4 linked regions of the Homo sapiens genome follow. The protein of the gene in region 2 purifies or fractionates together with the protein of the main gene of each other region. This does not show direct contact. Each region holds a gene or a part of one and is shown on either strand. Other genes may lie near its edges. The genes, in order: THNSL1, UTP11, KLHL41 and CRNN.

The links.
Region 1: the proteins of UTP11 (region 2) and THNSL1 purify together in Homo sapiens (affinity purification with mass spectrometry; 3 studies listed by BioGRID and IntAct, with this or other methods). This does not show direct contact.
Region 3: the proteins of UTP11 (region 2) and KLHL41 purify together in Homo sapiens (affinity purification with mass spectrometry; 3 studies listed by BioGRID and IntAct, with this or other methods). This does not show direct contact.
Region 4: the proteins of UTP11 (region 2) and CRNN purify together in Homo sapiens (affinity purification with mass spectrometry; 3 studies listed by BioGRID and IntAct, with this or other methods). This does not show direct contact.

Annotation. Positions count from the first base shown.
Region 1 is NC_000010.11:25,011,959-25,019,641, reverse strand, and holds the start of THNSL1 (threonine synthase-like 1), read right to left. Parts: upstream 3,031-7,683; 5' UTR 2,950-3,030; exon of another isoform or gene 2,853-2,949; intron 1-2,852. Other genes in the region: ENKUR (enkurin), read left to right, coding at 3,706-3,782.
Region 2 is NC_000001.11:38,015,716-38,022,753, forward strand, and holds part of UTP11 (probable U3 small nucleolar RNA-associated protein 11), read left to right. Parts: intron 1-643; coding exon 644-705; intron 706-1,952; coding exon 1,953-2,055; intron 2,056-2,748; coding exon 2,749-2,862; intron 2,863-3,343; coding exon 3,344-3,437; intron 3,438-3,537; coding exon 3,538-3,668; intron 3,669-6,983; coding exon 6,984-7,038. UniProt on the Homo sapiens protein: Part of the small subunit (SSU) processome, first precursor of the small eukaryotic ribosomal subunit.
Region 3 is NC_000002.12:169,519,664-169,526,701, reverse strand, and holds the end of KLHL41 (kelch-like protein 41), read right to left. Parts: intron 5,842-7,038; coding exon 5,695-5,841; intron 1,118-5,694; coding exon 1,006-1,117; 3' UTR 444-1,005; downstream 1-443. UniProt on the Homo sapiens protein: Involved in skeletal muscle development and differentiation. Regulates proliferation and differentiation of myoblasts and plays a role in myofibril assembly by promoting lateral fusion of adjacent thin fibrils into mature, wide myofibrils.
Region 4 is NC_000001.11:152,408,716-152,411,274, reverse strand, and holds the end of CRNN (cornulin), read left to right. Parts: intron 1-331; coding exon 332-1,681; 3' UTR 1,682-2,032; downstream 2,033-2,559. UniProt on the Homo sapiens protein: Promotes cell proliferation, G1/S cell cycle progression and induces expression of the cell cycle regulator CCND1. Regulates proliferation induced by pro-inflammatory cytokine response via activation of NFKB1 and PI3K/AKT signaling pathways.

The sequences.
Region 1 (7,683 bases), on a different chromosome or scaffold from region 2:
GTAGTATTTGCATATAACCTGTGCACATCCTCCTGTATACCTTAATCTCTGAATAACTTATAATACATAATACAATGCAAATGCTAGGTACAGAGCTGTTGTACTAATTTGCTTTTTTGTTTGTGGTATTTTTACTGTTCCATTATTTTCGTGTTTTTGTTTGTTTTTCAGACAGGCTCCCACTCTGTTGCCCAGGCAGGAGTGCAGTGGCACAATCTTGGCTCACTACAGCCTTGACTTCCTAGGCTCAAGCAATCCTCCCACCTCAGCCTCCCAAGTAGCTGGGACTAAAGGCACGCACCACCACACCCAGCTAATTTTAGTATTTTTAGTAGAGAGGGGGTTTCGCCATGTTGCCCAGGCTGGTCTCCAACTCCTGGGCTCAAGCAGTCTTCCTGCCTTGGCCTTCAAAAAGTGCTTGGATTGCAGGTATGAGCCACTGTGCCCAACTAAAATTTTAAAATATTTTCAATCTGTAATTAGTTGAATCTGAGAATGGGAAATTCACAGATATGGAGAACTAACTGTGTATCAGGACACAAACTAGCCAAAAGGAGGTTAAGCTCTACTGCTTCTGACTTCTGACCAAAAATTCTCTCAAACTTTTCATTCAGAGGGCCTCCCACTTGCCATGAAACAGAGGTGAGGGTGGAAGGACCACACAATCCAGTATAGTTCTGTAATCACAAGGATCTCACAACTAAAACAATTTTGCAAGTTCATCACTTAGTCTTTATATTACTATCAAAGCTGACTAAGCTTTTTCTGCCGTTAGACTTCTGCTGTTAGACATATTCTTAACGATCTCGAATATTTAATTGAAAACTTTAGTATCCACAATTCTATAACTTTGAGAATTATAAAGAACCTGTCTTTATAAAGGGTTTATTTACCTTCCAATTGTCTTATATACTCATCTACACCCATTTTATTCATTTAAATAGATTAAAATAATCCTTCGCAAAAAAAAAAAAAAAAAAAACAACTCTCATTTGTTTATGTACATCACAGGCATACCATTATATACGGGGATCTAGGATCTGTGCAAACTACAATCCACAGGCTAAATCTGGCCCACCATCATTTTCATAAATCAAGTTTCTTTGAAGCACAACTTCAGTCATTCATGTGCTCACATATTTGTTCAGTACCGTCTTTGGCTGCTTTTGAGCTACAATGGCAAAACTGAGTAGTTGCAACATAACCACTTGGCCTAAAAAGGCCTGAAATATTTACTGTCTACCCCTTTATAGACAGTTTGTTCATCCCTGTAGGTATATACCAGTTAATTCCCTGTGGACATGCGGTGGACACAGGCATTTTTTTGAAGTGTCATTTCAAGAGCATTATAAAAACTAGAAATAATTTTGCTTAAACACACTTTCAAAAGGCAAGGAGAATTGCAGATCAAATGTCTAAGAAAAAAGAAAAGTTTTTTTCCAAATGATTTAACAACCTGCTCATGGCTGTAAACTAACTATACCACAGTGAGGTCTTGCACAAATTGTTTAGCATTTTTTAAAGCATAATAAATATACAGACATCAGTGAAATTATTTTATTTCAGTAACCCCAGAACATCAAGGCTACCAAAGGCCAGTTGGTGCTAACTGCAGAAATCATGTTTTGCCCTTACTTGCTATTTCAGGAACTGATTAACACAAATAGTCTCAAGGTGTTCCTTCTAATTAGAAAATTCATAAGCTTTAGCCAGTGACTATCCACTTGGCTAATGGCGTTATCATTCCATGAGTCCTTGGTTCGAATCTTCGTACATACAGGAGGTTTCCCGCCAAATTTTTTCTCTATACTTGCTAAACAGAAATCCCAAACATAAAATACTCAAGGGCGAAAAGAAAGGGGCAAAGTGATATAGATTTGGATCTAGATCTAAATATAGATCTACAGATCCATCTATCTAAAATGTTTTGGAAGACAATCTGATGTGAAGAAATCTGGAGAATTTTCCCTAAGCGTCTGGGACAAAAATTAAAATCAACTGTATACAAAAAAAAAAAAAAGAAAAACTTAACGTATTCTTATGTAGTGAAATTCAGTAAGAGCCCAAAGTAAGGACCTACACATTCAGTAAAGCCTTTTTATACAGGAACTAAAAGGTTCACCAGGCCATTGTGTTGTTTTAATCACTCCGCCAGCCAACCAGGCAGTGAGAAACCCAGACTCAAGTGTGTTTTCTCTCCTCTCCGGGAAGCTTTATTTCCTTCGGGCAGAGTGGCCTCTGTACCGGTGGTTCAGAGGCATCCATCTTCCTCCCCAAATCCTATTACCAAAATGTCTTTTAAACACTCGGGTAAAAGCGTCTAAATGACTTTCCTACGGCAGGCCCATGTGCATAGATTTACGGGTGACCAGGTGGAACAAAAAGGAATAAAACCGCTTCTCAGAAGACAATTTTCCAACAAGGGACACCAAAAACTGGACAAAAACGTAAAGGCCCACTTAAAAGGCTTCTCCTCTTAGTTTAGGCTGCTCATTTACAAAGAGCAGGTCCACTGGTTCCTGGAGAACGACCTAGAGGAAGAGTCCCGACCCGGGGAAGAGCAGGCGCAGAGCCGACCCGGAGGACCGCCCAAGGGGCGGTCCCGGGAGCAGGGGCGGGAGGGCGAGCGCAGCAGGCGGAGGAGGCCGCGGGCCCCGTGCGCGCACTCACACACGTGGCGGGCAGGGCTGCGCGGCGTTCCGAGGAGCCTCGACCAGAAGCAGCAGGAAAAATGCGCGCAGAGTTGAGATGACCAGCGAGTAGCGGAAAGGGGAAGGGACGGTACGGGGAAAGGCATGCGATGGGAGCGGGCTGGCTTCTAGTTTTCCTTCCTTTCTCCTCCAATAACTCACCAAGGAAATCTCACTGAGAAGACGGGGGAAATGAAAGGAAATGGGGGAGCAGTGTCCACGAGCCGCTAAAGCCTCCACAGGAGACGGAGCACCGTACCTGCAGCTAGCTCCCCGGTCCCGCCCCCGCGCAGTGGACTCTGCGCCTGTGCCTGCGGCGGCCAGCGTGCCTCCGCTCCACGCCCTTCCCCGAGCGGCCTCGCGCAGGGCACGTGACTCTCCTTTCTCACTGTAGCCTATCCGAGCACTCCGATCTCCTCAGGCTCCTCCCCTCCCTCGTCTCCCTGGCGGCGCTGGCCTTGCGTCCTCGTGGTCTCAGCCGCTCGCTCCGCCCACACCGCGATTGGGGCCTGCTCACAAAAACCTTATTGGGTGACGCCTGCGCACCAGCTGCGCTTTGCCGTCTCTACTAGGATTTTTCTTTTTTCCCCAGATACACAGAAATAGAAAAGAGCACAGTTTTTAAGGGGACATCATTTTCACCCCGTTAACTTTCAAAGGCACGTAAAAACAGTGGCTTCCAAATGAGCTTCTCTAGCAGAAGGCGCTGCAGAAAGAGGGAAGAGGGGAGACCTAGTTTGCGGTGCTGCCTGCCACTTCCTCGTTGCCTAGTAACGGTTTCCACGGCAACCGCACAGTCAACGACGCTTAGCAATCCGGAGAGAAATAGGGTGTTTTCTTCCCGAGAGAGGACTGCTAAGAGGGGGTTAAAGGGGGACGATGTGAAGGAGAGAACCTGTGGTCCTTCAGAAGGCGAAGAAGAAAGAAAGGGGAAGCAGTGAAGAAAGGGACGGAGATACTGGGACAGGGAGAAAAAAGTTGTGGAGAGTAGCTTTTAAGGAGTCATTTGGTGGCCATGGATCCAACGTGCTCTTCTGAGTGCATTTATAACCTCATACCCAGTGACTTGAAGGAGCCTCCCCAGCCTCCTAGGTATGTGGATAAGCAAAGACTATCACTTGAAACAAGAATGGGGAATACTCAGTATTAATTAAGCATACATATACTGGAATTTTTAATAATAAATAAAATGTATTTTTGCCTCGATGAAGTAGCCTTGGAGGATAACTTGTTAGAGAAAAGGTCGAAATATCTAGGTATTCAGCATCTCACAGTTTTACAGAGAGGGCAGTCTGGCGCTGTGAGATGACCATTTTATTATATTACACTTAACCTCTTATTAATACGGTATGTGATTATTGTGTAATTTAATTATATGTGATATACAGCATAGTATGAAGTTTCATGTTGAAAAGAAAAAAATCACAATTCTATTATCTTGTTTAAGGATACTTGATGTTTGGTTTCAGGAGTTCGGTGTTGTATTTCTAACTGCACTACTCCCTCTCTAATGGGATAGGATAGGACTTTTCCCCCAAGATTTTTATGAAATATAAATTTACATTTGCTTTTGAGCCTCAGGTTTTTGATCAGTGAAACGAAATATCTACCACTATTAGGCAGTTTCTAAGGACTTTTTCAGATCTAATGGTTTAAATGGAAGGAAGAATTGGTGGATAGATAATGAACCAAAAAATATGTAATTGAGTTGAAATTTTACATAGGTCTTAGAACCTCTTAAATTCTCCAAATCTCAAAAACGTGCAAAGGAAGCACTTCAGTTACTCCCATCTGTAGGGACTTCTTAGAACTTACTTAAATCTGTGGGGAGCAAAGAAAGTAGTGGAGAAAATCTCATTTCTCCTAGGACTTGAAATGTTTCCTGTCTTTTACCATCATCCTTGTCCGTATGCAAGTCAAAACCACATTTGAAAAGGACTGGACTAAAAATCGGGCCTAGCAATTAATTGTCTTTGTGAACTTTAGAATAAAGTTTCATTTGTTTACTGATCTGTGAGATAAATGTACCAGATAATATCCAAGGCCCCTTTTAGATCTAATGGTCAATTATTTTTACTAGTATTAGGGTAATAGCTTCAACAAGTAGGCAGCTTCTTCAATTTTAAGTATCTGGTTTAAATTAGAGCAGTAACTGTATTACATCTCCATTAGCATATCAACATCTAGAGACTGGAAAGAGGAATGTAAAGTAAGTTATGGCACAGTTGCAGAATTTATTTTCAAATTTTCTATTGTTGCACCAACTTTTGGTTTCAAATTCCTGCATATTACATGAGATAAAACTCCTCTATAACAGATTGGTAGATTGTATTTCTATAGAATATTGAATTTGAGAGTTATTTTATTAGGTAGGTATTCTGTTCTTTGGCAAATTAAAAAGCTTTACTGCATCTAGACGATTTTTTTTTTCAAAAAAAATTTATAGGAACAGTCTTTATTCATTTGGCAAGCATTAATGGAGCCCCTATTATGTGTATAATATTGCACTAGTATATCTGTTCTTGGTGCTGTTGGAGTGATAGCACAGACTTCTTGGTTTTACTATGAAGAAATGAGTAGAAGAAAGATTTATGATTAGAGGAAATAGAGGCACCCAAATGTGATGCCAAAAGAATCATTTCTGTTAGGTTAAAGTCAATTTACACTGGCAAGATTCTGACAACTGCCTGGCTTTTGATCTCCCACGCCTCAGAGTTTACCGTCTTTTTGGGGAACTGAAATATGAACACTAAAATTTATCATTGAAAACCATAATGAGAGATGAAGATACTAAATGAGAACTTAGAAGATGAATGTATGTGACCAAAATCGGATGAAAGGCACTTTTCTGCAGTTGAACTATTGGCTGAGACTTAAGTTATGAAAGCCTCAGAGTCAATGGGAAGTCATGATTCAGTTTTCAAAATTTGAGTTACTCATGATGCATAAGATGGTTTCCAAGATTTTCACCAAATCTGTCACCCTTTTTTTTTTAATTACTTTTTTTTCAAGACGGAGTTTCACTCTTTTTGCCCAGGCTGGAGTGCAATGGCGCCATCTTGGCTCACTGCAGCTTCTGCCTCCTGGGTTCAAGCGATTCTCCTGCCTCAGCCTCCCGAGTAGCTGGGATTACAGGTCCCTGCTACCATGCCTGGCTAATTTTGTATTTTTAGTAGGGATGGGGTTTCACCATGGTGGCCAGGCTGGTCTTGACCTCCTGACCTCCAGTAATCCACCCACCTCTGCCTCCCAAAGTGCTATGATTATAGGCGTGAGCCACCACGCCTGGCCTATCACCCTTTATTGATGTCTGCAGTTATTGAATATCTCCAGTCATCCCCTCTTTCCATTTTGTTTAAAGCAATATTCCAGTTATGGTCTGAACAGTCCATGAAACCATTATCTCCTTTCCATAATTCTTGGCACAATATTTTCATCCATTCAGCCTAAGCTTCCATAAGCATTTTGACAGTCATGTCCAACTATTGGCTCACACTAAAATACCCTGTATGGATTTTGACTAAGGTTGGTCTCTCCCATCCTCTAATTATGTAGCTGATTCTTTTTTATCTCAACTCATTAATCTATGGAGATAGTTTTGCATTTGAATCTTTTATACATTCTGTTAACCATTCTTTTTGTGTCATTTGCAAATTTAATAAATATGTCTTTTATATCTCTTATCTATCATAGAACATAGTATATTAGTCTGTTCTCACGCTGCTAATAAAGACATACTCGAGACTGGGTAATTTATATTTCAAAAGAAGTTTAATTGACTCACAGTTTCACATGGCTGAGGAAGCCTTACAATCATGGCAGAAGGCAAAGGCGGAGCAAAGTCACATCTTACATGGTGGCAGGAAAGAGAGTGTGTGCAGGGGAACTCCCCTTTATAAAACCATCAGATCTCATGAGACTTATTCACTATCATGAGAGCAGCACAGGAAAGACCCACTCCCATGATTCAATTACCTATCACCAGATCCCTCCCATGACATATGGGAATTATGGGATCTCATCAATTTAATGTGAGATTTGCGTGGGGATGCAGCCAAACCATATCATTCTACCCCAGCCCCTCCCAGATCTCATGTCCTCACATTTCAAAACCAATCATACCTTCCCAACAGTCCCCCAAAGTCTTAACTCATTTCAGCATTAACTCAGAAGTCCACAGTTCAAAGTCTCATTTGAGACCAGGCAAGTCCCTTCTGCCTACAAGCATATAAAATCAAAAGCAAGTTAGGTACTTCCCAGATACAATGGGGGTCCAGGCATTGGGTAAATATAACCATTCGAAATAGCAGAAATTGGCCAAAACAAAGGGGCTATAGGCCCCTTGCAAGTCCAGATTCTAATAGGGCAGTCATTAAACCTTAAAGTTCCAAAATGATCTCCTTTGACTCCATGTCTCACATCCAGGTCACGCTGATGCAAGAGGTGGGATCCTATGGTCTTGGGCAGCTCTGTCCCTGTGACCTGGCACAGTACAGCCCCCATTCCGGCTGCTTTCATGGGTGGGCATTGAGTGTCTGCAGCTTTTCTGGGTGCATGGTGCATGCTCTCAGTGGATTTACCATTCTGAGGTCTGGAGAACAGTGGCCCTCTTCTCACAGCTCCACTAGGCAGTGCCCCAGTGGGAATTCTGTGTGGGGGGCTCCCACCCCATATTTCCCTTCCACACTGCCCTAGCAGAGGTTCTCCATGAGGGCTCTGCCCCGAAGCACATCTTTGCCTAGACATCCAGACATTTTGATACAACCTTTGAAATCTAGGTGGAGGTTCCCAAACCTCAATTCTTGACTTCTGTGCACCCGTAGTCCCAACACCATGTGGAAGCCACCAAGGCTTGGGGCTCGCACCCTCTGAAGCAATGGCCTGAGCTCTACGTTGTCCCCTTTTAGCCATGGCTGTGACTCAGGGCACCAAGTCCCAAGATTGCACAAAGCAGCAAGGCCCTGGGCCCAGCCCATGAAACCATTTTTTCTCC
Region 2 (7,038 bases):
TACTTTTTTCTCATACTGAGTACCACAAGTATAATAATAATAGTAAACTCATGCTGGAAAGCTGCTATGTGTCAAGCCATGTGCAGGCATTACCATTAATAGAAGCTCCTTGAATCCTCAGTATAACCCGGAGAAGCAGGTACTATTTTCATGTTACAGTCAGGAAATAGCAGCTCAGAGAAGTTAAGTGACATGCCCAAGGTCACAGATTGTTCAGAGGTAAAGCTTGGATTTGAACCCACATCTCCAGACTCTAAATTTAGCTCCCTTACCACAGTTGCCTCCCTGTTACTATGTTTTCCCTTTGTAGTATTTTATAAACCCTTGGATTAAGTTGGTAGTAATTTTAGTACAACTGGCAACTGCTTGCTTAGTGCCGAGTCATTGTTGCCTCTCTCTGTCCTTAATAGGCCAAGAAACCTACTACAGCAGTGCTTGTGACCTGTCTGGTGCTGGCAGGGTCCCTCTCATCCTTGGGCAGAGCCCAGTTGTGGGGAGGGGAGGGAACAGGGTCATGGGTTAGCTCCAAGGACTGGATTTACTGAGCACTCCAGAGACTCCTGTGCCTGTTAGATGTCGTGTTGATTTGGATATGTGTTTGCGGAGGAAACTAAGCACTGTTGTTCTTTCTTTTGTCTTCTAGCCTGGCTTTCGAAAACATCTGGGCCTGCTGGAGAAAAAGAAAGATTACAAACTTCGTGCAGAGTGAGTTCAGTCTTTCTGGTAGAGGCGCTGCCAAGAAAGCTTACAACCTCCTTGCACTGCAGCTGAATTGCCTGAGTGTCCAACAGGGGATAATTTCCTGCCATTGATAAAATGGCCAAAGCTCTGGCAGCCTGTCAGATAATTTTTTCTGTGATCCTAAATTTCTCTCTTTGTTTAGGCAGATCATTATTTATTTAACTGTAGTTGCATTGTGAATTATTTGTATTATGTTGTTCCAGATCATTTTCTCATAGTGGCTTTGATTTGGCTCTGCCTTGGTGTTTGAGCCCAAAGTTGAATCTTTTTCTCTTTGTTTTCTTGAAGTGCAGGATATAATCTGAAATTCCATTTGTTGAGTCTCTTACATCACCATGTGTGTGATGTGGAATGAAGAGATGTGAAAGATGGATTCATGAGACCAAGCGTGGGTGATAATGAACTCTGAAAACATTTTATAAAACAATTATCCCCATTCTTGTTCTCTGTTAGCACTTTGTTTGCAAAATACTTCTTAATTATTTGTTAGCGATACATGTCAGCTGAGGTCCTTTTTATGCCCCTGGTCTAGATGGTGGTGATGGATTAAATGGGTTTCTGTAGGTCCCAGAGATTTTAAGGCTAATGATAATTAAGTATTGTTATTGGGCCAGGCAGTGTTCTAGGATATTTACCGTTTTTACACTGATTTGTCCCTCCCAACAACCTTCTGGGATGGGTTACTATTACCGTATTCATTTTACAAATGAAATTGGGATTCAGGATGGTTAAATAACTTATCCAAGGTTACTTAGCCAGAAGTTGTCAAGTCCAGATTTGAACCCATGCTGTCTGGCTCCAGAGTCCATGATTCTAGTCATTGCGCTATACTGTACTGTGTAGTTTCTGAATTACATATGGTCATTTGGTGCCCAAGCTTGCACCATATCCTAAGGAGTTTTAATTTGTACTTTGTTTGGTGTCTCCCTGTAATGATATAAATGGCACTGAAACATATATAGGCTGGGGACAGTTAATTTCAGGTTCCACTGGAATAGGAACTGTTGATTAGACTGTGGACCCTGCGAAGACATGAGCTCAGCTCAGTGACAGTGGAGTGTCCAGATCCAGTCAGTGCTTTTGGCTTTTTTGAGTTTCACTCTGTGTGACCTTTTAGATGCTTGTAAAGTTTGCTTATTGTGGGTTTTTGGTTTTTTAAAATTATCTATTTTTTTTTTTTTGCTATGAACCTCATTTAACCTGTCTTTTAGTGACTACCGTAAAAAACAAGAATACCTCAAAGCTCTTCGGAAGAAGGCTCTTGAAAAAAATCCAGATGAATTCTACTACAAAATGACTCGGGTTAAACTCCAGGTGGGTGCCCAATGGCTTGGTTGGTGTTTTGAGCTCCACACATTGGAAAATAAGGACAGGGAGGAGATGGAGAGGAAGAATCGTTGGCCTTAATTTAACCCTTCTCTGGTTACTCCAGGTGCTCTTGGTCAGTGTCCAAGGCAAACCCTCCACTTCCAGAGGAGCGTGCATTTTTACCTTTGAATCTGGGTTGTCTTATACCTGGAGCTGTTCTAGGACAGATGACTGGAGGTGCTACATTGAACGTACGCCTCAGGGGCCTGTGTCTAGGATTGCTGTTAGCATACAGCATTTGGTTGTCTTTTTGTTTTTTTTTTTGAGATGGACTCACTCTCTGTTGCCCAGGCTGGAGTGCAGTGGTGCGACCTCGGCTCCCTGCAACCTCTGCCTCCCGGGTTCAAGTGATTCTCGTGCCTCAGCCTCTCGAGTAGCTGAACTACAGGCACACACTACTGTGCCCGGCTAAGTTTTTGTATTTTTAGTAGAGACGGGGTTTCACCATGTTGGTCAGGCTGGTCTTGAACTCCTGACCTCAAGTGATCTGCCCATCTCGGTCTCCCAAAGTGCTGGGATTACAGGTGTGAGTGACCGCACTTGGCCTATGGTTGTCTTTGTTCTAGCCGTGCACTGTGCCAACAACTTATTAATGATTTTAATCTAATAGGGAATATATCTTTTAAATTTGGATTTTAGGATGGAGTACATATTATTAAGGAGACTAAGGAAGAAGTAACCCCAGAACAACTAAAGCTGATGAGAACTCAGGACGTCAAATATATAGAAATGAAGAGGGTTGCAGAAGCTAAGGTAATTCACTCTTTGTTCTGATTGGTTTTATTGGTTAAGAAGGGAAACTTAAATTCATCAATCTCAAGTTATTCATTAATTTCTTCTGGCATTTACAATCTCACTTGATTGTAATAATGATTTAGAAGTATAGTTAGCATGGTAGAGTGGAAAGAGTTCAGGTTTGGGAATGAGACAGACCTAGGGTTTGAGTTCTGGCACTGCCATAAATTACTAGCCCCATGACAATGGGCAAATTCAACTCCCTGAGGCTCTTCCCTCATTTCTGTCTCAGGCGACTGTTGCAGGGATTAAGTGCGTCTTGGGAAGTGCCTAGCCCAATACCTGATATTTGTTGGGATCCTTTCCTTTAAAAGAATAAAGCAAGTTCTTTGCTGGCTGGCAATAATGATGTGAAATGGTTTAAACTTTTGCAGTTTTTTTTTTTTTTTGGTACCCTAGAAGAATCTAATATAAAGTGAGACCATATTCTGTGTTCTAGAAAATCGAAAGACTAAAATCAGAGCTCCATCTGCTGGATTTCCAGGGGAAGCAACAGAACAAGCATGTGTTCTTTTTTGACACCAAAAAGGAAGGTATGAAATGTTTGAAGGTTTCTGGGACAGTCTACCATGCCAGTCTGTGTCATTTGGTGTTAGAAACCGACAGTGCCTTAAGGATTGTCTTGAATTTTAGTTGAACAGTTTGATGTCGCAACTCACCTGCAAACAGCCCCGGAGCTAGTCGACAGAGTCTTTAATAGGCCCAGGATAGAGACCTTGCAGAAAGAAAAAGTGAAAGGAGTTACCAATCAGACTGGACTTAAGGTAATTTTCTCTGTTGTTCTTCACATGTGAGCTTAGGGGAATCTAGGTGTTTTTTTTTTGTTTTTTTTTTTTTGCTACTGCATTTAAAATAATTTTTAAAATTTATTTTATTTTATTTTTTAGTCAGAGTCTCACTGTCTCCCAGGCTGGAGTGCAGTGGCACGATCTCGGCTCACTGCAACCTCCGCCTCCTGGGTTCAAGCAATTCTCATGCCTCAGCCTCCCCAGTAACTGGGACTATAGGGGTGCAACACCACACCCAGCTTATTTCTGTATTTTTCATAGAGATGGGGTTTCGCCATGTTGGCCAGGCTGGTCTTGAACTCCTGACCTCAGTTGATCTGCCTGCCTTGGCCTCCCAAAGTGTCGGGATTACAAGCGTGAGCCACTGTGCCTGGCCTAAAATAATTATTTATTTATGGAAAACTCATGAGTTCCCTTAGAAAAGTGGATTTGTAGGATGATTTGATGATGGGATGGAAGTGGAGAAGGGCTTCCTAATTTCTATGATCGGAGGAGGTATAGTGGTCAGAAGCTTAGGTTCTGGCCTTTAGACCTGGGTTTGAATCCCAATTCTGACCCTGCGCTTTGTGCTTTTAATACTTGTAACAGATGCCAGTGTTTTGAAAATGCAGAGAAAGGGATTGCTGAAGATTAAAGGATTTGCAATACTTTAATATTGAACCTTTAGCAGTGAATACGCACATCAAAAGGTCTTTCTGTGTTTTTATTTTTCTTGAGACAGGGTCTCACTGTCACCCAGGCTGGAGTGCAATGGTGTGATTATGGCTCACTGCAGTCTCCACCTTCTGGGCTTAAGCGATCCTCCTGCCTCAGCCTCCTGGGTAGCTGGGACCACAGGTGTGTGCCACCATGCCTAGCTAATTTTAAATTTTTTTTGTAGAAACGGGGTCTCGCTAAGTTGCCCAGGCTGGTCTTAAACTCCTGAGCTCAAGTGTTTACTCCCGCCTTGGCCTCCTGAAGTGTTGGGATTACAGGCGTGAGCCACCATGCCTGCCCAAAAGGTCTTTCATATTGTGTATTGTAACAAAAATTTTGTTTTGGCTTTTCCTTATGGTGCTTTCCGTCACTGTAACTGGGTTGTGCAGAAGACATGCTTTTCCTGAAAGCCTTCTGGAGTTGAACTCTTCTGACTGATTCATTAAAAAAAAATGCTGTCAATGTGTTTCAAGCAGACAGCTGTTCTGTTTTGATTTGAATCATTTACACTGCATCAGTTTTGCTTCCAATGTTTAATTTCACAGCAGTTTTCTCTAGCTCAGAGGCAGCTAAACTTGCTTTAGTAATATAAATACCCCTAATTAGTTTGACTATATTGGGTAATCCCATAAATCTGACAGTCTGTGCAATAAAGCGAAAACAAAAGCTGTCTGAAACCACTGCTGTGAGACTGTGCTAGAATCTGTGAATTGTTGAAGTCTAAGGCCCAGTAATATTTCCTTCTGTAGATAACACTTCCAGCCAAAGAGCTTGCTCATGAGTGTTCTTGTGATAACCCTGTTGTTTGTCAATTAGGTGTACTTTTTTTTTTTTTTGAGACGGAGTCTCACTCTGTCACCCAGGCTGGAGTGCGGTGGCGTGATATCGGCTCACTGCAACCTCTGCCTCCTGGGTTCAAGCAATTCTCTTGCCTCAGCCTCCCGAGTAGCTGGGATTACAGGTGCCCGCCACCACGCCTGGCTAATTTTTTGTATATTTAGTAGAGACAGGGTTTCACCATTTTGGCTAGGCTGGTCTTGAACTCCTGACCTTGTGATCCACCCACCTCAGCCTCCCAAAGTGCAGGGATTACAGGCGTGAGCTACCGCGCCCGGCAATTAGGTGTACTTTCAATTAGCCGTGTCACTGACGCTTCTCAAGAATTGTGGTAGTCCCTAAAGAGATTAGTATTCCAAATTCCCATGTAGAATAGTTCACCAGCATAGCTTTTGAGAAGTTAGGGAGGTTTAGATTTTTGCCATTTTTGTCTAGTAATTATGTTTCTTTCTATTTTGTTTACTGCAAAATCATTTTTATTAAGAGACTGCTGGTGGGTGGATTGCAAGGATATTTTGTCTGTAACTTCGAGTGGGTAGACAACCCATGAGTGAGCTTTAGGAGGTCTGAGAAAACCCCCCTTTCTCACTGGTATTTTGTGCAGATAGGTATATGTGCTTGCACAACCTTTTACAAATGTGTATGTACATTTATCTCAAGAAACATCCCATGCTGGGCGTGGTGGCTCATGCCTGTAGTCCCAGCAATTTGGGAGGCCAAGGCAGGTGGATCACTTGAGGTCAGGAGTTCGAGACTAGCCTGGCCAATGTAGTGAAACCCTGTCTCTACTAAAAATACAAAAATTAGCCAGGCGTGGTGGCGGGCACCTGTAATCCCAGCTACTAGGGAGGCTGAGGCAGCAGAATTGCTTGAACCCAGGAGGCGGAGGTTGTAGCGAGCCGAGATAGTGCCACTGCACTCCAGCCTGGGCGACAGAGCAAGACTCCGCCTCAGAAAAAAAAAAAAAAGAAGAAAGATCCCAAAGCTTTCATCAGTTTCTCTGAGGTTGATGATTCCCCAAAATGTAAGGACCCCACTGATCTTTGAGGAGTCATTAGCAGTGAGAATTCTCAGGTGAGCTTCTGCTGAAAAAATTCTTCTGCTTTCTGAGTGGTAAGATTTTCAGGCACCAGCACACTGCCTGGGGACCCTTCTGTTGCCGACTCTTCTGTTGCTCTCCATTCACTTTGTATAGGGTTTCCAACACTGATTCATTCCTGCCATCATCTCAGGTGACTGTGGCACTCACACAAAGGTTGAAGCAGCTTAGTGTAGTAGTGGAAAGATTCCTGGGATTTGTGAGAGGGGGACGGTCCTGACTCTGCTCCAGGTGAGCTGTGTGTCCTTGGACCACTTCTTCTCTGGGCCTCATTTTTCTGCGTTTGTAAATGACGGGTTTCGATAAGATAGTCTACAGGGTTCCTTTTTTAATTTTTAATTTTTTTTTTTTGAGACAGAGTCTCATTATGTTGCCTACGTTGGTCTGGAACTCCTGGGCTCAAGTGACCCTCCCTCCTCAGCCTCCCAAAGTGCTGGGATTACTGGCGTGAGCCACTGCGTCTGGCCCAGGGTTCCTTTCAGCTCCAGAATGTGATGTTCCTAAAATGGGCAACGTTATTGTTACCACGTTATGTTGATTCTGGTGAAAGAAGGGAGTTGATGAAACTATGCAGTTGGCTTAAATGGATTAAGAAACAGTTTCTTACTCATTTTTGTCCTGTTCATTGTTCACTGAGAATGTGTGTGTTTCTTCTCCAGCGAATAGCTAAAGAAAGGCAAAAGCAGTATAACTGCCTGACACAGCGGATTGAAC
Region 3 (7,038 bases), on a different chromosome or scaffold from region 2:
TGTGGCTAAAAGTGATGATTAATTGATGACTTGCACAGAGTTGAATGTGATGGTTATGAGCAGATTGAGGAGTCAACTTACTATATGCACTAAGAAGGAACAGTGAATGGAGGATATCACATCCCAGAAAATGAAATAATACAGTCACCTTCCTTGCTGTCAGAAATTTAGCAAATAGGTAGCCCTTTCATGGAGTGTAGCCAAAATTTAAACCAGTGAATACACTTCCTCCTCCACATCACCCACTGACCCCAACTGCTGTCCCAGCAGTTTAAAGAATCAATCCATTTCCTAAGGGTGCTCCCTCACCCTCCTGCCACAGATGCTGTAGTTAATGGCTTGAAGACTGTGATTTACTGGTTTTAAATTAAAATTTTAAAAATTTGATTTGGAAACCACAAATAATACGCCAGTGTCGCAAAAAGAATGGAGAGAAAAGGCCATTTGAATTTGACTACTTTTACTTACAAGAGACTTTTCCCCATCAAACGATTTCCCCATCCATTTATTACACTTCTGAAGTAGGATTTCTGAAGTCATCTTATGGCATGTAATTCTTAGTATAATGCACAGGATTCCTGTCATTTTGAAGCACGAGGAGAGGTTTTTGATATCTTAAACATTTTTTTAGTGTAGATGCACATATTCTCCACTTCCAATTGTAATAGAAAATCAGTTTAAGGATACCCTAATGATGCAAATGAAATGATTAGCAAACAACTCAAATTTAGGAGCCTTCTTTACAATCCATTGAGTGAAACAGATTCACAAAATAATTTGTTCAACTGAAGATTTAATTTATTATTAGAAAATGGTTTTAAACTCTGATCATTACATTGAAGAGTCAATGACTGAGGTTTTCTTACCTACTGCTCATCTCTTAGACAATAACTTCTTGAATAATTTCTACATGAGTGTCTGTACAAGCTTTTAAAAAACAGAATAAATTAAAGCCCCATTCACCAAACAAACCACCTCCCAATCTATTATGTTTTGTCACCTTGTTCACAGTTTAGACAGTTTGAAGAGATTTAAACGTGTTGCTAGGCAACTAGCTCCTGAAGCATAACGTATTTCCTTCAACATCCCAGCCCATTCTTTTTTATCATCTTCATACCTGATGGAGGAAAAAAAAAGTAATCAATAAGCAGCTTTAGTTCCATAGGTTTCCCTGTGTTCAGAATACAAATGTGGATCTTTGAAAAAACCCTAGTGGCTCTTACTCAGAAGAAGATGCACCTGCCTGGTAGAACAGAACTTAAATATCTCCCAAATATGCATTGTCTGGATGAGCATGTGCCTGAACTACTGCCACAGTATTTAATCTGGATGCCTAGGCAGTTCAGCATTCTCTGGGAATCAAAGACTGCAGAGAAGAGGAATAAATAGCTAAGCAGTTAAACATTCATTCACCTTTGAATTGATGAAGATGGCTGGTCTCTGAGTCAAAGTAAGCAGACTCTTGCTTAAGAGAAAGAACTGAGGAAGAGCAGGGACTATCGGTAGACTTAATTATGCCTTCAATTGTTCCTATACACTAGTGCCTAGCATGGCACCTGATACACAGCTGTCACTTTATGAAAATTTGTTCCCCTTCCCCTTTATTGTTCTGTTTGAGGACTACTCTTAGACTTTGCACTTGACTTAGGTAAGAACTGGTCTTCATCTCTGAATATTCAAGGTTATAAAGATACAGATAACTTGAATTCCCTTGTACGATGTGTGCTGAACATGTCTGCTCTGCCTGGTGCCTGGAATATTTTCTTTGTGTGGGAAGCTTCTAAATGCCGCCTTCTCTCTGAAACCTTTCTCACCTTCCTTAAGCACAGTTTGTTGCTTTCTCTTTCTCATATCATCCTTTATATGGTATTATAGCAATTATCACTCCATTTTAATTCCCCCCCCCATATCAATGTCCTCAAGCCTCAAAGGCATCTGAGGACAAATAATATATTAATATCTCTCCACAAATTGTCAAGACCTGGCACAAGACAACCCCAAATCAGCCAGGTGTGGTGGCTTACACCTGTGATCCCAGCACTTTGGGAGGCCGAGGGGGGCAGGTCACCTGAGATCAGGAGTTTGAGACCAGCCCGGCCAATATGGCAAAACCCCGTCTCTACTAAAAATATAAAAATTAGCCAGGCATGGTAGTGTGCGTCTGTAATCCTAGCTACTCCGGAGGCTGAGGCAAGAGAACTGCTTGAACCCGGGAGGCGGAGGTTGCAGTGAGTCAAGATTGCACAGCAAGACTCCATCTCAAAAAAAAAAAAAAAAAAAAAAGATTTACCCCAAATCATTCTGTGATGAATGGAGATTTAAAATAATTATTAAAATTAGCTTGTACCTACATAAGACATGCTCTGACTTAATTTCATCAATGTTCCAAATTAGTTCTCAATAATTGTACCATGCACTGATTTTTATGTAGAGGAAAGCATACAAAAAATATTTTGCTACTAATAAAGGGAATAACCTTAATTACATAAAATTCAGGGCAACAAATTAAGAGATAAATAATAGTTTTAAATGACCTAAAGAAAGTGACCACATTTAAACAATATGAGGTTAAGGTTAAATGAGGTTTAAAAATGTTTGCTTCCTGGCAGTTATATTTACTTTCAGCTTGGTCAATCCTAAATAATGGAATGATTTCAAGAAAAAAATACAAGAATGGAATTTTTTTTTTACGTATAGTAAGAGGGTCTATGTTGAGAATGTTGTATACTGAGAGTTTTCACCTCTGCATGTGTGGTTAGGGAGGTTCACTAGGAAATTGAGGGCAAATAGGCAGCCACGTTTCTCTAGATCGGCGGCCTTCAACTTTAACACACATCTAAGTCACCTGGAGGGTTTGTGCAAACACAGATCGCTGGCCCTATCACCCCCAGAGTTTCTAATTTAACAGATTTGAAGTGAGACCTGAGAATCTGCCTTTCTGATAAGTACCCAGGTGAGGCTGATGCTGCTTTGGGAACCACTGTAGTAGATTACAGGTTCTCAAACTTAATTGCCAATAGAACCAGCTGGAGATGTTAAAGATACTGATGCCTAGGTCCTACTCTCAGAGATTGAGTTAATTGGTATGAAGGGTGGCCTGGGCATCAGGATTTTTTAAAGCTCCCCAAGTGTTTCTAATATGCAGCAAAGTTTGAGAATCATGCTCCAGATCCTACCCCAAATTAGGAAATACCAGTCTCAAAATAGCCAAGCAGATAGTGATGAATGCCCCCCTCTTCTCTTTACCCAATCCAGTGGTTCCCAAACTTGTCTACACATATAGAAACATCCATGGATCTTTTAAAATTTCCAAAGCCCAGGCCATACTTCAGACCAATTAAATTGCAGTCAATATAAGTGGGATAGAGGTGTTAATATTTTTTGAAGCACCCTGGTGATTCGAACGTGCAGGCAACTTTGGGAACCACTGCTCTAATCGCAAAATAAACCACAATCAGAGAGGATCCCTCTTTTAGGTTCCCTAAACAATGTCAGGGCCACTTTTATAGCAGGAGATTCTGTACTTTCTTTTGCTGCCTGTAACTGTTCCCTGCAGGGGCAGCATGGCTTTTGATAACCCTTAGGAACCAGGAGGGCTTCAGGGAGGTCCCACTGATTGACAGCACAATTACTTAATATCAGTGTTTCTCAACCCTGGCTGCTGATTAGAATCATCTGGGGCTGGGCTCGGTGGCTGACGCCTGTAATCCCAGCACTGTGGGAGGCTGAGGTGGGTGGATCACCTGAGGTCAGGAGTTCAAGACCAGCCTGGCCAATATGGTGAAACCCCATCTCTACTAAAAATACAAAAATTAGCCGGGCATGGTGGTGCACACCTGTAGTCCCAGCTGCTCCAGAGCCTGAGGCAGGAGAATCGCTTGAACCCAGGAGCTGGAGGTTGCAATGAGCCAAGATCACATCACTGCACTACAGCCTGGGTGACAGAGTGAGACTCTGTCTCACCAAAAAAAAAAAAAAAAAAAAAAAAAAAAAAAATCACTGGGAAGGTTTTAGGAACTAGGGATGCTCAACTCTACCTCCAGAAATTTTGATATAATTGGTCTGTGTTAAGGCCCAGACACTGGTATATTTTAAAAGCATCCCAGATGATTGTAACATACAGCTAGGGTTGAGAATCACTGCCCATTTATATATTTGGTACCTGGCCCTGTTTTCCAAAAAACCCTAACCTTCCCGGCCTTCATTAGTTCATCCTTTTTTCCTACTGCTTCCAGCTTTTCCCCATCTCACTGTTTTGCTAATTCTAGCCTCTTTGCTCCGTGGAAATCTCATTTTTTTTCTCTTTCTCCCTCTTTTTTGGGGGGAGGAGGGAAAGTAGTTAATTTCCTTGCATAGCCACTTTTTTTCTTGCCCTCTACACAGCTAGTTAATATTACAACATGGGGAAATGATGTCTAATGCACAAATCATTGTTTGGTTAAGGTACCAGCTTTTCAGCCTTTTTAGTTCAGCATCTGGGAATAAAGCATCTGCTGGTTAAGGTATAGAACAAATAATACCCACTTTTCACTCTCAGGCTTAGTGGTATGCCTTCACTGATTAAGTATAAATGGCACTCTTCCAAAGCTGTACTTATAAACTTAAATGTGCAAACAATTCACCTAAGAATCTTGTTAAAAAATACAGATTCTCATTCAGTAGGGTCTGGGATTCTGTGTTTCTTTTTTCTTTTTTTTTTTTTCTTTTAAGACTCGCTCTGTAGCTGAGGCTGGAGTGCAGTGGCGCGATCTCAGTTCAAAATAAAATAAAAACAAACTTTTTTTTTAATAGCCTCACTAAAATGTTCAATTGAGTAACAGTTTCAAGTGTCATACTTAGGAGAACTGCCTGGCACCTCCAGGCAGGTAAAATGGATTGCTATTTTGACTTTTTTCATTTTAAAAAAGCATTTATTAGCTGAAGCCTAAAACAATTGGAAAGCTGTTTAAATTAGATTGAAAACAGAACTAATGAAGTAGTGGAAAGCTCAAGAGGTTAAATGTTTCTTTAGGCTGGGTACGTGGCTCACGCCTGTAATCCTAGCACTTTGGGAGATTGAGGCGGGTGGATCACCTGAGGTCAGGAGTTCGAGACCAGCCTGGCCAACATGGCGAAATGCCGTCTCTACTAAAAATATAAAAATTAGCTGGGCGTGGTGGATATGCCTGTAATCCCAGCTACTCGGGAGGCTGAGGCAGGAGAATCACTTGAACCTGGGAGGCCGAGGTTGCAGTGAGCTGAGATCCCGCCATTGTACTCCAGCCTGGGTGACAGAAACTCTGTCTCAAAAAAATAAAAATAAAAAAGTAAAAAACATAAAATTTTTTTTAGAACTCTGTTTTGTTAGGAAATAAACTACTCTGGAGCAAAGAGGCTTTCACTCTACTGGATGCCTATAGCATTATACTCTTAGAGCTGGAATGAAACTGAGAGTATCAAAGGTCCAACTCTCATTTTACAGTAAGAAACAGGCCTGCCCAGATGATTTCTTTCTCAGGCTCAGAGCTAACTAGAAGTAGATACTTGTTCAAGTAAGTGGCATGTACAGAAGTTCAATTAGGTTTGAAGTGTTTAGTCTACTACCAAGAAGTAGCTTGCATGTTGGGAAAATCTGGCTTATTGTTTACTACAAAATAGTTTATCAGTCATCTGATTTAATATGTGATTCTGAAAATTGAAGTGATGAGAACTTACTTCCATATGTCATTGACTTCAGTGGGTGCAAATTCTTTAGACTCCAGTTGAATCATAGCAAAACCACCAATTGCATACAGAGATCCAGCCAGGCTGACCAAACTGATGGAGCTTCTTTCTTGGGGAAATTCGGTCATTACATCCCATCTAGGTATCATTAAAAATATAGTCAATGTAAAACTTAAAGAAATGCCAGATGTACTTACTGAATAATTATAGGAAATAATAATTTAAAAATTCAAGTAGTGGCCAGGCAGCCAGGCGCGGTGGCTCATGCCGGTAATCCCAGCACTTTGGGAGGCTGAGACGGGTAGATCACCTGAGGTCAGGAGTTTGAGACCAGCCTGACCAACATGGTGAAACCCCACCTCTACCAAAAATACAAAAAATTAGCCAGGCACGGTGGCGCGCACTTGTAATTTCAGCTATTTGGGAGGCTGTGGCAGGAGAATCACTTGAACCTGGGAGGCGGAGGTTGCAGTGAGCTGAGATTGTGCAACTGTACTCCAGCCTGGGCAACAGAGCGAGACTCCATCTAAATAAAAAATAAATATTCAAGTAGCGGCTGGGTTCGGTGGCTCATGCCCGTAATCCCAGCACTTTGGGAGACTGAGGCAGGAGGATTGCTTGAGCCCAAGGAGTATGCGACCAGCCTGGGCAACAAAATGGACTGCCTCCACACACACACACACACATACACACACACACACACACACACACACACACACACACTGAGGCAGGAGGATAGCTTGAGCCCAAGGAGTATGAGACCAGCCTGGGCAACAAAATGGACTGTCTACACACACACACACACACACACACACACACACACACACACACACACACACACACACAGAGCTAGGCCTGGTGGTATGTCCCTATAGTCCCAGCTACTTGGGAGGATCTCTTGAGCCCTTGAGGTCAAGGCTGCGGTGAGCTATGATCGCATTGCTGCATTCCAGCCTGGGTGATAGAGCAAAACCCTGTCTTTAAGGGGGGAAAAAAAAATTCAAGGAGCACAGGCATCTAAAAGTAAATGACTAAGTTTGCTACTAGAAAATATTTGAAAGATGTAACTTCATTAAATATAAAGCCTTCAATATGGCAACCCTAAGGCCGGGCACGGTGGCTCATGCCTGTAATCCTAGCACTTTGGCAGGCCTAGGTGGGTGGATCACCTGAGGTAAGGAGTTCGAGACCAGCCTGACCAACATGGTGAAACCCCATCTCTACTAAAAATACAAAAAATTAGCCGATTTTTTTCTAATTATAAAAATAATATATGTACATTATAGAAAATCTGTACTCCAGCCTGTGTGACACAGTGAGACCCTGTCTCAAAAA
Region 4 (2,559 bases), about 110 Mb from region 2:
GCCAAGGGCAGCCCAGACAGTCAACTTGAGAGCCCAAACAGTTGCATTGTGAATTCAATAATTTATTAACTCTTCAATAAATCTTTATCTAATTTTCCTGTAGCCCAGAAATTGTGCCAAATAGAGGCTACCAAACAAAAAATGCTCTCTACACTTGAGGGAGAGAGACGGGACTAAAAAAAAATAAAGGCAATTAAGTCTTGCTGCTGCTCTAGCCGTATGTGTGTGTAGTGTGGGGTCTGAGGCAGGGGAAGCTGGCAGCAGATTGGAAGGGACCTGCCCATGTCCTCCTCAGGGGAGGGATGCTGACTCCACCTCATCTTCTCCTCAGAAACCCCACGATCCAGCAACTGTGGATGAGGTCCTGCGTCTGCTGGATGAAGACCACACAGGGACTGTGGAATTCAAGGAATTCCTGGTCTTAGTGTTTAAAGTTGCCCAGGCCTGTTTCAAGACACTGAGCGAGAGTGCTGAGGGAGCCTGCGGCTCTCAAGAGTCTGGAAGCCTCCACTCTGGGGCCTCGCAGGAGCTGGGCGAAGGACAGAGAAGTGGCACTGAAGTGGGAAGGGCGGGGAAAGGGCAGCATTATGAGGGGAGCAGCCACAGACAGAGCCAGCAGGGTTCCAGAGGGCAGAACAGGCCTGGGGTTCAGACCCAGGGTCAGGCCACTGGCTCTGCGTGGGTCAGCAGCTATGACAGGCAAGCTGAGTCCCAGAGCCAGGAAAGAATAAGCCCGCAGATACAACTCTCTGGGCAGACAGAGCAGACCCAGAAAGCTGGAGAAGGCAAGAGGAATCAGACAACAGAGATGAGGCCAGAGAGACAGCCACAGACCAGGGAACAGGACAGAGCCCACCAGACAGGTGAGACTGTGACTGGATCTGGAACTCAGACCCAGGCAGGTGCCACCCAGACTGTGGAGCAGGACAGCAGCCACCAGACAGGAAGAACCAGCAAGCAGACACAGGAGGCCACCAATGACCAGAACAGAGGGACTGAGACCCACGGTCAAGGCAGGAGCCAGACCAGCCAGGCTGTGACAGGAGGACATGCTCAGATACAGGCAGGGACACACACCCAGACACCCACCCAGACCGTGGAGCAGGACAGCAGCCACCAGACAGGAAGCACCAGCACCCAGACACAGGAGTCCACCAATGGCCAGAACAGAGGGACTGAGATCCACGGTCAAGGCAGGAGCCAGACCAGCCAGGCTGTGACAGGAGGACACACTCAGATACAGGCAGGGTCACACACCGAGACTGTGGAGCAGGACAGAAGCCAAACTGTAAGCCACGGAGGGGCTAGAGAACAGGGACAGACCCAGACGCAGCCAGGCAGTGGTCAAAGATGGATGCAAGTGAGCAACCCTGAGGCAGGAGAGACAGTACCGGGAGGACAGGCCCAGACTGGGGCAAGCACTGAGTCAGGAAGGCAGGAGTGGAGCAGCACTCACCCAAGGCGCTGTGTGACAGAAGGGCAGGGAGACAGACAGCCCACAGTGGTTGGTGAGGAATGGGTTGATGACCACTCAAGGGAGACAGTGATCCTCAGGCTGGACCAGGGCAACTTGCATACCAGTGTTTCCTCAGCACAGGGCCAGGATGCAGCCCAGTCAGAAGAGAAGCGAGGCATCACAGCTAGAGAGCTGTATTCCTACTTGAGAAGCACCAAGCCATGACTTCCCCGACTCCAATGTCCAGTACTGGAAGAAGACAGCTGGAGAGAGTTTGGCTTGTCCTGCATGGCCAATCCAGTGGGTGCATCCCTGGACATCAGCTCTTCATTATGCAGCTTCCCTTTTAGGTCTTTCTCAATGAGATAATTTCTGCAAGGAGCTTTCTATCCTGAACTCTTCTTTCTTACCTGCTTTGCGGTGCAGACCCTCTCAGGAGCAGGAAGACTCAGAGCAAGTCACCCCTTTGTACTGAATTGTCCTCATCTTGTGGGGGGTTTCAGGACTATTTTTATCTCTGACATCTCTCTATTGCCCCATCTACCCTAATGCATCAATAAAACCTTAAGCCACTGGCCTCTGTGTCTCATTCAACCACCTTCTATTGATATTACAGGCCAAAGGCTGTAGAGTTATGAGATGATGAACTGGACATAGTCCCTACCTTTGAAGAGCAACTAGTTGAGAAAATATTATATGAGATTCCTGCTATATATCATACTTAATACTTGGCAGAGATGGACCAGCAAAGGTTTCATACAAAAGGCGCTTTCTTTATGATGGCCCTGAAAAGACAATTAGTATTTAGATAGATAGGCAAAATTCCTCTTGGTCTTTCACTACCTCTAATTCTATAGCGTTAAACCGCTATTCACCTGTAAGGTCACACAGGAAAGCTGATTTAAGATTACCAAGAAATGGAAGAAGGCCCCCAGTGGCTGTGTAGGGAAAGAGCGAGAAAGCTTGTGTTACCAGGTACTGAGCCAGGGGCCAGAATTTTGTGCTTCCCTTCCTACCTCCCCCTCAGTGTCAGCTCTGACCTCTCATGATGTCTCACCCACCAGATATAAACCATGTTATGGGGTAGAGACTATCAATTCTGG